Linked DNA regions of Homo sapiens. The protein of the gene in region 1 purifies or fractionates together with the protein of each later gene. This does not show direct contact. Each region holds a gene or a part of one and is shown on either strand. Other genes may lie near its edges.

Region 1 (3,664 bases):
CCCCATTGCTTTTTAATATCCATTTCGATTCAGTCTTATCTGTATTTGAACTCTAGCTCTAATTAGTGGCATGATCTTGGGCAAGTCACTTTACCTCTCAAGGCATTTCCCCACCTGCAGAAGGGGAATAACTATCTCTCCTTGTATTTTAAAAGATGATACATACAAAAGGTTCTAACACAGTCAACCATTACAGTTACCTAGTTCATGGTCACTTTTCAAAGGAAACAAAGTTGAAAGTTGAAGTGGAGGCCATTGATGAAAGGGTAGGGCCATTTTATTTCTTAGTATAGAATCTAGCAAAAAAATTAAGGGAGGAAGTTGTAGACTAATGACTGTAATGAACTTAAGGGGCTGTTTCTTGATTTTAATTATCCATGCTATTGCTACCCCCATCACCACAGACAATCAAGAAGCATGAGTCAGCACTGGCATAGCAACATGGCCTAGCAACCTAGTAATGTAGGTTAATGTTTTTCTTTCTCATTAAATGAATAAATGAAGCAACTTCTTGTTTTTTCTTTTCTTCATTTTGGTTTCAGTGACAAAATGTTCCCTGCCTTTGGGTTTGGCGCCAGGATACCTCCAGAGTACACGGTGAGTGAGTGGAGATGTGATCTTCTTCCACTTCACTGTGGTCAAAGGATAACTTGGCTCTTCTTTGCAGCAGTCTCACACTCCTGACTCTGACCTAACTGTGTCAGTAGGGCCTACAGAGTCAGAAATTGTCTTCAGAATCAGTGAGATTAACTCGCCAGGGCCCGTCTCTTGATGAAACCCTATCTCCTGGTATTTTGGATGGGTCTTCTCAGAGGTCCAGATGAAGAGTTTCATTGTTTAGTTTCTTATAAATGTGGTCAGAGTCTGAGAAAACACTCAAGAAGTTGATCTCCAGGGGCTCAGAACCTATTCACTCGTATATCCCCTAGGAAATAGAATTCTATTGGCAATGCCAACTGGGAAAGTCCGTGACAATGGAGTCTACAGACTTTCTTATCCCAAGTCTCCGAGTCCAAGTCTTGTATGGGAGACACAGAGAAGTTTTGAAGAAAGAACTATTATGACTTAGAGAATTGGGAAGCTGAAATGTTCTTCTGAAGACGTTGGAATCCTATTTGGTTTTGATAATGATTTCTCATGACAGAAAAAAGGCAAAGATTGTGTGTAGATAAATTTGCACTGTAATGAGGCTGAGACACTACTGTGATATTCTAGATGCTCCTGTAGAACATTCTCCACAGAGAACTCGTGCCCACTAGGTGGACAGGGCCTTGGAGAGACAGCAGGGTACCTCTCCCAGCCTCCACCTTACCAGTGCCTCTGAGGTCTGAGCTAAGTACAAACAACACTGCCCAATCCTCAATTTCTCTTTTACTGGCTGTGTCTGAGCCACAGGTGAGGAGGTAGATGCTGACATTTGCTCCCTCACTAGAGCCATCATATAAAGGGCTTTCCCCTTAGGTATCCTTTTTGAAAGAGGAAATCAATATCCCTGTTGCTCCTAGAGTGAATAGTGGATGGAATCGCTTGTCTCCCTGACCTGTTCTCCTTCTTTCTTGCCTTGTATTCCACACTGGCCTTTCTGCTGGGCATAGCTACATAATTCTAGAAGCATTTATTAGAAATACAGCTTGTGGAGAGAAAGAATATAGAACAAGAGTTATCAACTGGTGGCCTATAGACATTATTCAGGCCACAAATATGTTATATTTGACACACTTTTAAAAAACGAATTCAGCAATTGCATATATAAAATGTCAGATTTCTGGTTTCTCTTGAAAACCTGAAAGGCCTGGCAACACTAAGATTAAAAGATGACCGATACAAGAATAAGCTGGAGCTGAGGAGATATAGGCCCCTTCAAATCGGGAATGTAAACAGGTGAATGCCCACTTTCTTCATAGAGCTGCTGAATAGCTCAATAGCCATCAGCCCAACTACCCAGGGATTCTTGAGTTTTCACCACATCCCCACCAGGTGGTCTTCCAGCCTCAGGTTGGCCCAACAGGGCTGAGGACAGAGCTATGCACCATACCTTTTTCTCACTAATGACATCTTTTTGGTTCCCTTCCTGGAGTAACTAATCTTTCTTGCTGTTTTCTGAAGTCCTCTTGTTCACTTGATCCCCTAACTCCATCCTTCCTGTCAGCAAAATCCCCTGGTTATTCTTGTTTCAATAGGCATCTCTCACATTTCCCCATTTCGGGTCCCCTAATTTCTCCCATTCCTCAGACAAGCACTGATGATTTGAGCAGCTCAGGTGCCCCCAGGAGAGTTTACAAGGTTGCCACAATTTACTTCTTAGGACAAAATCTGAAAGTATGCATTGAAACTGAAACACAAGCACCTCTCTTTCTTAGTTAGCACTTTCTCAGAAACAGATCTTGAGACAAGGGTTTGGATGCAAATAGTTTATTTAAAAGGTGAGGGAAACCACAATAGAGGTTGGGAAGTGGAAGTCAGCACAGAGTATATTATCAAGTCAGTTACCGCTGTTGGCAACTGGTGCTTAACTCTGCTGAAGAACCCTAGGAGACAATATACAGCACACATGGACCCCAAGGGATAAGGGAGCTGGGATATGTATACATCACCTCCTGTTAATTACTGATTACTCCCAAGGGTCACTTTTAGCCTGTCACTTGGGCAAGCAAGGCAGGCCCTGGAGGCCAAGAAAAAACTTAAGGTAAACAAAGCAAATAAGATGACTGAAGTCAGCTGGCTTACCTGGAAGTGCTAAGAGCAAGGGACTAGGATAAGCACTGAGAGCATCACCGATCACCTCCCACTAAGAAAACAGGTGTCTTTTAACACAGTGACCTAATTTATGGATACCCAAAAGAGTCAGAGCTTGGAAATATCCTTTGAAATGAAATTCTCCATAAAATACCAAATGATTCAATAAAAATGTCCAGATGCCAGAACATCTATCTTGTTTTATCAGGTTTTCGGAAAGAAAAAAGTAAACAATATGTTATTTGACCTTGTGCATAGGTTCTGCCAGGTAGAGGAATTTGTGTTGAAATATTACAAAGTATATTACTTTACTATGTTTCCAAAAGTAGAGTGCAGTCTGTTTTACCTGTAGGTATGTGAAAATCCTCCTGCCCTGTAGTTCTGCATATCATGTTAATGATTCTTAAGTGTCAACTGCTTAGCTGAAGCTTTTATAACCATCGCTATCTTCAGCAGACAGCTTGGGTTATTGAGTTTTTTTGTTTTTATTTTTGTTTTAATCACTGGGTCCAAATAGAGCTCAGCCAAATCTAAGCCTCCAGTCTGTGGCCAGTTCTAACTAGCAGCTATTCAAAGTTATCTTTCTGAAATCTTTTCTTGGATTTTTTTATAAGCCTTATTCTCCCCTCCTGACAGCATTTATCTGATTCTAGAAAATATTCCTGTCACCTCAACTCCACAGGGAGCTTAGAATTCACCCTCCATCTCATATTGATTGTGTAAAGGCTTGAAATGGTTCCTGCTGCTTAACACATAATGAATATAATGGGCATTTGTTTGCAAACTCTAAACCCCAGTGCCTTCTTACTGGATTAAAGTTGTAATTCTTCTTTCTTCCTGTTTTTTAAATTTTAATCGGTGTCTAGGTCTCTCATGACTTTGCAATCAACTTTAATGAAGACAACCCAGAATGTGCAGGTAAAGCACA
Region 2 (2,615 bases), on another chromosome or scaffold:
CACGCCACTGCACTCGAGCCTGGGTGACAGAGCAAGACCCTATCTCAAAAAAAAAAAAAAAAAAAGAACCCCCCCCCCCCACCAAAAAAGGCATGTGATCAGTAAAAAAGACATTATTTGCTTATATTGTAGAGTGGTTCTAAAATATAGATTTTACATTGAGAAATTTTAATACTCTCTTTTTTCTTTTTTTTTTCTTTGTTTTACTTTCTAAAGATGAGGAAGAAAATGCTTCCCGTTCTTCTGGATGAGCATCCTATCTTCGTAGTTGGTTTGGACTTCGATAGGTTGATGGAAGGAATACTTCTATTAACCAAATAGAATCTGTTTACAAAAATGGTTCGTGTGTGTTACCATTATTCTTTTGTCAAAAAGTGTGTATATATGTTTGCATTTACATATATTTGTACATCTGTATGACAGATGTATTTTAAAAGTTTCAACTTGAAGTAAAAGTACAACAGCTTGAAGTGTTGATACCAGGCCACAGCCCTCTAACTCATGTGATCTCCCATGCATGCTGCCAGAATAAAACCACCAGGAATGAATTCACTCCCCACTTCTCTGGAACCTCAGGACCCGCCCATTTCTCGGCAGTACTGTGAATTTTGAAGTTAAACTAAATTTTGGTACCATACCAACTGGAATTTAGGCTTTAAAAATAATGTTTCAAGGCCAGGTGTGGTGATTCATGCCTGAAATCCCACTACTTTGGGAGGCTGAGGCTGGAGAATCGCTTGAGGCTAGTGAGCTGTGATTGTACCACTGCACTCCAGCTCGGGGAACAGAGCGAGACCTTGTCTCTAAAAATAATAATAGTAATAAAAATAACGTTTTATGACTATTTATTGCAAGGTCAGATTTACAGATTGTTATAAATTGTTGAGAAATTTTTGTGATTAGAATATGAAGGAAAAAGCTTTGTTGGTAAAAGTGACATGTTAAGGGGCTATGAAGTAAATATGCTGCAGTTAATTGTGCTAAGTTAAAATACAGTTTAGTTATTTGCTTTAAAATAAACTCTTCTTTTTTTCTTTAAAGTATACTACCTCAAAACTCATTATGTTGTCAGAGCCCTAGAGCTGGCTAGTGTAACACTGACTATGAGTAGGTGGGCCCACCACTTGAGTTGAGGTGATTTCATGGTGTCTTTCCAGGCTCTTGATAGGGTGTCACTGCATGCAAGCCATGAATCTGTTTTGAGAATCCTCTCCATTTTCCCAAATAAAAACCTATCCCAACAGTGACTATATCACTCAGCATTGGATCTAAATATAAAAGTGGTGCTTTCAGTGTTTTTGGCAGATAGTGTTCCATAACCTTTCCATCAGAAGGGATTTTAGACACCTTAGAGGTCCGTGCTACATCTTCACAGTTCCTCCGAATAACCTTAGGTGGTAGTGTTACTTGCCTTTGACACCTGTGCATATGTTTTAATGACTAGATCCAAACTGTGTTGTTCTTAAATCAAAAATTGGATAATTTTTAATATTTATGTATTAATCACACAGTGTGCTCTCTGAAGTTCTCTTAAGCCTTCAGTTTATACTCTTAATTTTCTTTCTGAGCTGGGGAACTGACTTTGCACTTTGGTTACACAGAACATTGGTTTCCAATTTAGTTTAACTGAAATTTGCTGCTGATATGTTGAGTTTGTTCTTTAAAAAATATCTCATATATCTCGTCTTTCCTCCTTAGAAGAACAGACCTAACTAGCGAATGTATGAATGAAAATGCATCTATTTCAGAGCCGACATGAAGAGTTTAGTTTTTTTACTTTATAAACTGTGAATATGAGTATGCCAGCTGCATTAGATGTAACTAATCATATTTAAATATATTTCACTTTGACTTTAGACCTTTTGAAGTCTGTATAAACTTGTTTTGAAATACAGTCTCCACTTACGAATGTCATAACAAAATACTTTTTTGCATGATAAAAAATTACTTTGATTACAAAAGGCATATTCTTTCATGGTTTCTGCAATGAGAGGAAGTGTAATGATTATTTTAATATTTCTATTAAAACTGTATATTTTTATGGCTGCTCTTTTATGTTACCCACTGTCTCTTTGGGGTTGTTAATTGGTTTCTGAAAGGGAACTTCAAACTCCTTTACTACTGGCCTTCCATGGTTGGTCCCTATTAGGTTGTTGTGAGAACGTCGACCAACTCTTTGATACCCGCCAGGTAGACCGTAGTACCTGCCATGTCTGACACCCTGCATCCAGCTAAAACCAGAAACAGCGCTGGGCCTCCCTGTGGACAAGACATTGATTTGACCAGAAGCAGATGTCTGGCTAAGGCTGCCAACCAAAGGGTGGCCTTAGATGAAGGGCTTTGTTCAGTTAGGGGCAGAGGTCATTAATTTTTTTTTTTTTTTTTGAGACAGAGTCTTGCTCTGTCGCCCAGGCGTGAGTGCAATGGCGCGATCTCGGCTCACTGCAAGCTCTGCCTCCCAGGTTCACGCCATTCTCCTGCCTCAGCCTCCTAAGTAGCTGGGACTACAGGCGCCGGCCACCATGCCCGGCTAATTTTTTGTATTTTTACTAGAGACAGGGTTTCACCGTGTTAGCCTGGATGGTCTCGATCTCCTGGAGGTAATTTATTTCTTT

The links.
Region 2: the proteins of CPNE4 (region 1) and RGPD5 purify together in Homo sapiens (affinity purification with mass spectrometry, with the first as the bait; 2 studies listed by BioGRID). This does not show direct contact.

The regions. Positions count from the first base shown.
Region 1 is NC_000003.12:131,552,430-131,556,093, reverse strand, and holds part of CPNE4 (copine-4), read left to right. Parts: intron 1-542; coding exon 543-597; intron 598-3,602; coding exon 3,603-3,654; intron 3,655-3,664.
Region 2 is NC_000002.12:109,855,646-109,858,260, forward strand, and holds the end of RGPD5 (RANBP2-like and GRIP domain-containing protein 5/6), read left to right. Parts: exon of another isoform or gene 1-44; intron 45-216; coding exon 217-251; 3' UTR 252-2,060; downstream 2,061-2,615.